Regions from separate parts of the Homo sapiens genome. Here regions 1 and 2 are each linked to region 3. The links come from fine-mapping of genetic effects on gene expression. A gene starts in region 3. Each other region holds a variant in brackets. All regions are shown on one strand. Distances are from middle to middle.

Region 1 (2,762 bases), 33 kb after region 3:
GGCTGGGAACTGCAGGATGAGTAGGAGTTAGTCCAGTGAGATGGAGTGGGGGTGAGGAGGAAACCTTCATGCAGGGGGTGTGCAGCTGCACACGCCTTGTTCTGAGCCCAGGAAGAGCACGGTGTTGAGGTGCTGAGCACTGGGGGACAAGCTGGAGGGGGCACAGGGGCATCTGTGACCTTCTCCGGGCCTTGGGACAGATTGCTGCAGAACTAGGGCCTCCTCCATGTCTCTTTTGCGTCTTTTCTCACAGGACATCCCTCTAGGCAGGGGATTGGCAAACCAGGCCCTGCTGGCCAAAGCCAGCCTGTTGCCTTTTTGGTAAATAAAGTTTTGTTGGAATACAGCCATGTTCTTTCATTTACACATTGCCCATGGCTGCTTTTATGCTGTGATGGCAACATTGAACACCTGCAACAGAACCCGTATGGCCTGCAAAGCAAGAATGTTTACTATAAGGCTCTTTACAGAAAAAGCAGGTTGATCCTGCTCTAACCTCTGCCTGCTGCTTGCAGCAAACCTTCCTCATCTGGGCCTCAAATATTTCTGTCCTTTATTCTGGTGCTTTGAGTCTATCTGTAGCTCAGGGTAAGGTGTTGAGAATTAGTAAGATTACAAACTGCAAAAGCAAAGGTTTGGCTGTTAGAATACTTATGTTTCGATCTTGGCTTGACCTAGTCATTAGTGATTATATAATAATAATAATGCTACTAGTAATAGTAGTAAATGCAGGAATAGTTTCTATTTATCCAGCAATTATTATGTGACAAGTTTGGAGCTGGACTTTTAAAATATATTATGTCATTTAAATTCTCACAAAGAAGTCTTGGATATAGTTTTTTTTTTATCCCCATTTTGCAGATGCTAAAATTGACACCAAAAGCGTAGGTGATGAGCTTGAATCAGGTAAGAATTATATTCTACTTCCAGCTAAAGAAGAGGATATAGAAGATCAATAGCTTAAACAAAACAGAAGGTTTGTTTCTCACCCTTCCTGTAATAGAAATCTGGCAATGAGCAAACATGGTAGTATTTATATTCTGAGTTCTTGTCACATTATTTTCATTTTCAGGTCTTCTCATGGACTAAAACAGTGACAGTGAGTGCAACTCTACCTATCATGTTCATATT[C/G]TAGGTAGAAACTGGGGAAAAGAGAAAAGGCGGGAAAAAGGCGTTTCTCTACAAAGATCACACATAATCTTCTGTCTGCATCTCATTGGTCGGCATTTAGTCACATGGCCATAACTACCAGCAAGGGAAGCTGGGAAATGTAGTTTTTCAATGGCACATTGCTACCCTTAATAAAATAAGGATATGCTACCAACAAAGAATGAATATGGGAAAGGCCCCTAGCAATGTCTGCTGCATCTGCCACTGTGGTTTTCTCTGATTTCCACAGACATTGCTCTTCCACATAGAGCGCATTCTGATTCCCAAGCCACCACTCCCAAATCACACCCAGTTTCTGCATCTAGCTTGTGTGTGGGCAGTCTGCTCCATCAGTCCCAGATGTGGCTTCTCATGGCTGGTGACCTATGAACTAAAAGACAGGCCATTTTTTTCCCAACCTACCCTACCTTTTCTCCTTGAGAGGAAAGATAAAATAACCACAATTTAAAAATGTCAATCTTCCATTCAGAAAAGGGAGGAAAGAGAAACACAGAGATCACTGGTTTACAGTGATGGACCCACCCTGCTAGGCAGGAGTGAAAAGGCCTCTCCGTCCGGCAGTGGACTGGGTTCCTTGGCTGGCCCATGTGGTCCCCACCCACTGTCTCCAGGAGCATCGCCTTGAACTGTGTCTTCATGGCTTTTGGCTCCGCCTTCAGAAGGGTCCTCCCTGTCAATCATCCTCCATTGCCACCTCTGATGTGGGCACTAGGGAGCTGGTCCTTCCCAGAGGATGCATGATTTTGACACCGTGCAGTGTGGGATGTTGGACCAGGGAATCCAGCATATTTTCGGGCTTTTGTAGTCTCAGACTGGGCCTGAGATTTCTTTAGAAATATATTAACGGTTCCTTCAACACTCCAATGGGCATATAGCCTATTTACTTCTGATCATTGTAATGTGCAAATAACCACAGCCCCATTTCTTTGTGTCCAGATGCAGTTTTTAGGCTTGAATATTCATCTGTTTTACTCACTGGCCTCTGTCACTGAGTCTGTCCCCTTAGCTATTAAATTAATGGTGACTATGATAACACTTTTCACCCGATCCTTGCTAGTGCATTGACTTGCGTTGTCTGCATCGAGTTCTTAAAAGATGCTTGGTAAAGTCTTGGGTCACAGTTTTAACTTCTGCTGGGGTTCCTGCTCCACAGCCCTCATTTAGAACTGTTTCACTTTGGCTATTGTTTAGCTTTGGGCCATATTTGGCTGTTTTTTAGCTTTGTAAAAATGCTCATTTAACGGACACAAGGCCTGGGTTAGAAAATGTAGTATTTCCTTCCCCCTCTGTTTGCGTAGGAGCTAGCGCTAGTGGAAGCCCATCTCTCCCTTGCAGGATTTTGTGGAAAGTGACGAAAATAACTCAAACCACATCAGTGTTCTGCTTGATTTCCACCATTCTTGGATGCTATAACTTCAGAAAGCACATGATCTAACTTCCCAAGGGACAGCAGGGCCTCGACCAAATGCCGTTGTGCTGAGGGCTGCCGGCCGCCCCGCTAGGCTGCTGCACCCTCCCCGCGCTGCCCCACACCTTGCACAGAGCTCAGGCAGCATTCTAGCACCATCAGACAAATTCTTCATGAGTCAGAA
Region 2 (2,762 bases), 60 kb after region 3:
AATTTTGGAATAAGTGCAATGTGGTGCTGAGAAGAATGTATATTCTGTTGATTTGGGGTGGAAAGTTCTGTAGATGTCTATTAGGTCCACTTGGTGCAGAGCTGAGTTCAATTCCTGGATATCCTTGTTAACTTTCTGTCTCATTGATCTGTCTAATGTTGACAGTGGGGTGTTAAAGTCTCCCATTATTATTGTGTGGGAGTCTAAGTCTCTTTGTAGGTCTCTAAGAACTTGCTTTATGAATCTGGGTGCTCCTGTATCGGGTGCATATATATTTAGGATAGTTAGCTCTTCTTGTTGAATTGATCCTTTTACCATTATGTAATGGCCTTCTTTGTCTCTTTTGATCTTTGTTGGTTTAAAGTCTGCTTTATCAGAGACTAGGATTGCAACCCCTGCCTTTTTTTTGTTTTCCATTTGCTTGGAAGATCTTCCTCCATCCCTTTTATTTTGAGCCTATGTGTGTCTCCGCACATGATATGGGTCTCCTGAATACAACACACTGATGGGTCTTGACTCTTTATCCAATTTGCCAGTCTGTGTCTTTTAATTGGAGCATTTAACCCATTTACATTTAAGGTTAATATTGTTATGTGTGAATTTGATCCTGTCATTATGATGTTAGATGGTTATTTTGCTCGTTAGTTTATGCAGTTTCTTCCTAGCATCAATGGTCTTTACAATTTGGCATGTTTATGCAGTGGCTGGTACTGATTTTTCCTTTCCATGTTTAGTGCTTCCTTCAGGAGCTCTTGTAGGCAGGCCTGATGGTGACAAAATCTCTCAGCATTTGCTTGTCTGTAAAGGATTTTATTTCTCCTTCACTTATGAAGCTTAGTTTGGCTGGATATGAAATTCTGGGTTGAAAATTCTTTCTTTAAGGATGTTGAATATTGACCCCCACTCTCTTCTGGCTTGTAGAGTTTCTGCCGAGAGATCAGCTGTTAGTTTGATGGGCTTCCCTTTGTGGGTACACCCGACCTTTCTCTCTGGCTGCCCTTAACATTTTTTCCTTTATTTCAACTTTGGTGTATCTGACAATTGTGTGTCTTGGAGTTGCTCTTCTTGAGGAGTATCTTTGTGATGTTCTCTGTATTTCCTGAATTTGAATGTTGGCCTGCCTTGGTAGGTTGGGGAAGTTCTCCTGGATAATATCCTGCAGAGTGTTTTCCAACTTGGTTTCCTTCTCTCTGTCACTTTCAGGTACACCAATCAGACGTAGATTTAGTCTTTTCACATAGTCCTATATTTCTTGGAGGCTTTGTTCATTTCTTTTTCTGTTTTTTCTCTAAACTTCTCTTCTCGCTTCATTTCATTCATTTGATCTTCAATCACTGATACCCTTCCTTCTGGTTGATCGAATCGGCTACTGAAGCTTGTGCATTCATCACGTAGTTCTCGTGCCATGGTTTTCAGCTCCATCAGGTCATTTAAGGTCTTCTCTACTCTGGTTATTCTAGTTAGCCATTCGTCTAATGTTTTTTCAAGGTTTTTAACTTCTTTGCCATGGGTTCAAACTTCCTCCTTTAGCTTGGAGAAGTTTGGTCATCTGAAGCCTTCTTCTCTCAACTCGTCAAAGTCATTCTCTGTCTATCTTTGTTCTGTTGCTGGTGAGGAGCTGCATTTCTTTGGAGGGGGAGAGGAGCTCTGATTTTTAGAATTTTCAGCTTTTCTGCTTTGGTTTCTCCCCATCTTTGTGGTTTTATCAACCTTTGGTCTTTGATGATGGTGACATACC[G/A]ATGGGGTTTTGGTATGGATGTCCTTTCTGTTTGTTAGTTTTCCTTCTAGCAGTCAGGACCCTCAGCTGCAGGTCTGTTGGAGTTTGCTGGAGGTCCACTCCAGACCCTGTTTGCCTGGGTATCACCAGTGGAGTCTGCAGAACAGCAAATATTTCAGAACAGCAAATGTTGCTGCCTGATTGTTCTTCTGGAAGCTTCGTCTCAGAGGGGCACCCTGCCGTGTGATTGAAGTCCCCCATTGTTTTGTTTTGGCAGCTGATTTAGTAAACAAACAAGAATGAAGAAGGAAACCATAGCTGAGTGGCAGAGCGTGCCTGGCTGTTTACACAGGACTCCAGGGCAGGGCTCCTGGAGAGGGACGTGCCAGAGGGATGGGCCGAGGCCCAGGAGGAAGTGAACCTGCTCAGGGGCAGAAAGGAGACAAGAGAGAGGTGAGAGAGGAGGGCAAGAGCCAGGCCTTGGAGGCTGGGCCACCAGGAAATGAGTTTGCACCTTATTGGGAAGCCACTGGGAGGCTTGAAGGAGGGTAACAAACTATGATTTTAGAGACCAAAAAAAGGGTTCCTTGGTGCCTGGGTGGAGGACGGGCTTCAGAGGAAGAAACTGTGAGCTCCTGGAGTGCAGGCATGAAGGCAGGAGTGTCCTCGCTCCAGCCCTGGGCACGGGCCTAGCTCCTTGGTGCTCAGTGTGTAGTGGGGGCATGTATTAACTGGAATGGTGCTTTGCTTTTGTTCTCTGTACTTTGGGTGGTGGACAGCTTTCCTCTGTGGTGCTCTTTCTCCTTCCCTTCATTTTCCCAGGGGTCCATCCTCTGCATTTACCTGGGAGGGAGCTCTGTTACCTGGGGAGGGGCTCACAGTCCTAGGCAGAATGGGGGCTCCCAGTGCCAGCTCCTAGGGCAGGAGCGACAGCCTCAGAAGCCTCAGCACTCAGATCTGTATCACGGTCCCAACCAGAGCCTTGTTGTGTGCAGAGCCCTCCCTCTGCAGTGAAGAGCCTGAGGAAGCCATGTTCTCGCTGAAG
Region 3 (2,762 bases):
AGGAGATGGAGTGGGAGATTGCAGTGCCTGGGTGATGGGAGAGAGCAGGGGAGGGCGGGTCGGGGGAACCACTGCTGATTTCATAGGGAAGCAGCTGGGATGGGGCAGAGGAGCGAGAACTAGGATGTCCCATATACAATACAATTGCATATTGGACATACAACCCAGACAATTCCTTCTTCTATCAAATCCACCATCCTGGAGAGTAAAGCTGAAAAGCTGATGACATAAAGTCTGTCTGGGATCAGGCATGATTCTGCGTGCCCAAATGGAGCACAGATCCCTTCCTTCCCAGGGTTCCAGGCTGGCTCCTCAGCCAGGCTCATGGTGTAGGGAGCTGGTCTTTCTTGGCCCTCACTGGGACCTGGCTGTCCATGAGTGGGTGGAATTCTGAAGCCTACCTCTTCTGGATCCCTTTGGCTACATCCTTTATTCATGGGCCATGCCCTTCCTTCAAAGGCTTCAACCTCACACAGATCTGGGCTAGAACACGGGCTTGCCCCATATGTCTTGACAGCTCACCGAACCTTTCTGAGCTTTTATTCTCTTACCTATTTAATGAGAGTGGTGTGTGAGGGTCCACCAGGTAATCTGAGTGATGCCCCTCGCTGCCTCTGTCCCCTGGGGGTCATTCTGCCCAAAGGGGTGCATAGCGTCAGGACCACCAACTCCTCCCAGAGCACTGAGGTCCCTGCTGCCCAGTTAGTGGGTCCCAGGGAAGCCACGTGGCATTTGGAGTGGCATTCCAATCTTGCACTTTCAGGGCCCCCTCTGTGGTTCTGAGAGGAGGAAACAGCTCTAACCTTGGTGATCCCGACTGTGCTGGGCCCTGGGTTGTGAGGCAAATGGAGGGCAGAGGCCCTGGGGGAGGACACGTCCCTCACCACAGTCACTCCCCAGTGCAGCAGTCAGGGGATTTCCCAGGGTGCACTGGGCCAAGGGGCCAGACTCTGAAGTTCATGGGGTTAAGGTCTCCCCGCCAGCCAGGTGACGGCAGCCTCCTCGCCTTGCCCAGACAAGAAAGCCTCGATCTAATCTCACTCTGAACTTTTCCCAAGGCTTTTGCTACGCTTTGCTGTAGCTCCAAAGCCGCATTAGTGAGCACCACGCTCCTTTATAAATGGTCTGTGACCCCAGAGGTCTGCTCGCTGAGGGAGCTGTCTATTTCGGGCATTGTGGGTGGAGGGGGCATCTCAGAGGCTTCTGGAAAATTCCTGATGGGATTGTGTCTGTGTTCTGTCTCAAGCCTCCAATCAACAGATCAGACAGCTTGTACTCACAGGCCAAGGACACGTGGAAAGAGGCTCAATTTTCTAGATGGGTGGCAACAGCCATGATCTTCTGTCCTCTGGGTCCCCACAAGCCTGGATGAACTCAAGATCTGACTCAGTGGCACAGTGAGGAGACCTTTGAGGCCTCAGTGACCATCCTTGGACTTCACCTCTCACGGCTTTCAGGCAGAGAGGCCCTCCCATGCCCACAACAGGCTGAGCCCAGCCTTCCTCGGGGTTTGCTTCCAGGCCTGACTTTTACTCCCCTTTCTAAGTGGTAAGTAGCTTGGTGATGGTGGCTGAGAAAGAAACAGAGAAAAAACATACCTTACAGGCAGAACTGTCATAGTTCTCAAAAGACCAAAGTCACAAGGGCCTGTGGGTGCCTGCACGGCTGCCCAGAGGGAGGGTGACGCCAGCCACAGGCCCATTGCCTTTGTAGGCCAGGGTCCTGCAGTGCTGGCCCGCAACGCTTGATGGGAGGGGGCGGCTCTGTCTACGTGTGAAGAGCCCAGGGTGGCTGTAGCTTGCAGCGGATGGCATTCTCAGTTTGCCCGTTACTCCCCAGACAAATCTCCCTCTGGCCCCTTTTCCTTTCTGTCTTCAGTGGGGGTCGGGAGGCGGCAGCCCCAAAGACCTCTCCTTACCACCTTGTCTTTCCCATGGAGGTTCCCATGCAACACTTGTCCCTGTCCCTGAAATTTCAGACTTCTTTCCACAGCGCAAAGCCTCGGGCCTTGAGAAACTGCAGTGAGCAAGGGGAACCTCACCCCCAAGCTAAGGCAAGAATGCTGGCTCTTCCATCGCTCCTAAGTTCCAGGCTGACCTCTTCCTCCAACTCAACATATTCAAAATGAAACCCAGCGTCTTTAGCTCACCCTCCTTCCCCGCTGCCCCTGCCAGGGCCATGGCCACACTGACCCACACCCCCCGGTCACACCTCCAGGCCTGGCAGTAATATTGCCTGGACTCCTTGAGAACTGCAACCAGATTAATCGTCCCAGAGCTCCGCTTTGATAATATCACTTTTATAGACACATGAAAGGAAGCATTTAGGCAGTCAGTCATGCTAAATCTTAACCACCTTTACAGATTTTTTAGTGCAGCCCATCAAAATTGTCACCAGTCCTGAAGGTCCCACATTTATGGTGTCCATGATAACACCTCCCATGCCAGAGGCAGCAGCACTTGGAGGTGGTGCAGAGCTGGCACTGCAGGAGCTGTCCTCGCCAGGCCTGATCTCACAGCCAGGGCTGCTTCTCCTGGTTCCGCACAAAGCCCATGGTGACCTCCTGCACCTCCCACTCCAGAGGCATAACTGAGCAGTCTGTCTGGGCACCATCAGCACTCCTCTGCGAGGTGACAGATTACAGCTCTAAAGATGTTGGGCCGTTAGGCATTACCTTTCCAGTCGCTGGGTGCAAGGGGGCCTGGGAGTCCTTGGCAGGGGCTGGCATGGGCAGGCTGGTCGGGCTTCAGCAGCAGCTGTGG

Which allele goes with the higher level. Alleles are on the strand shown, and positions count from the first base shown. SD is a standard deviation of normalised expression in the study named.
In carriers of allele C in region 1, the expression in caudate of the gene that starts at base 1,246 in region 3 tends to be higher than with G alone (moderate effect, 0.49 SD a copy in GTEx).
With allele G in place of A in region 2, the expression in minor salivary gland of the gene that starts at base 1,246 in region 3 is lower (moderate effect, 0.54 SD a copy in GTEx).

Evidence for each region. PIP is the estimated chance that this variant, and not a neighbour inherited with it, causes the effect.
Region 1: its variant is the best candidate, but not a certain one, in a credible set for the expression of B3GAT1-DT in caudate (GTEx, PIP 0.83).
Region 2: its variant is the best candidate, but not a certain one, in a credible set for the expression of B3GAT1-DT in minor salivary gland (GTEx, PIP 0.51).

The regions. Positions count from the first base shown.
Region 1 is chr11:134,468,626-134,471,387 of GRCh38, forward strand. The region is part of intron 3 of B3GAT1-DT (B3GAT1 divergent transcript); the gene reads left to right. Among named protein-coding and RNA genes, the nearest start is that of B3GAT1-DT, 34 kb to the left of the region's middle. The variant C/G (reference allele first, on the strand shown) is at 1,132.
Region 2 is chr11:134,495,698-134,498,459 of GRCh38, forward strand. The region is part of intron 5 of B3GAT1-DT (B3GAT1 divergent transcript); the gene reads left to right. Among named protein-coding and RNA genes, the nearest start is that of B3GAT1-DT, 61 kb to the left of the region's middle. The variant G/A (reference allele first, on the strand shown) is at 1,739.
Region 3 is chr11:134,435,237-134,437,998 of GRCh38, forward strand. It overlaps B3GAT1-DT (B3GAT1 divergent transcript), which reads left to right and starts at 1,246. Exons shown (of 6, transcript NR_033852.1): 1 at 1,246-1,548.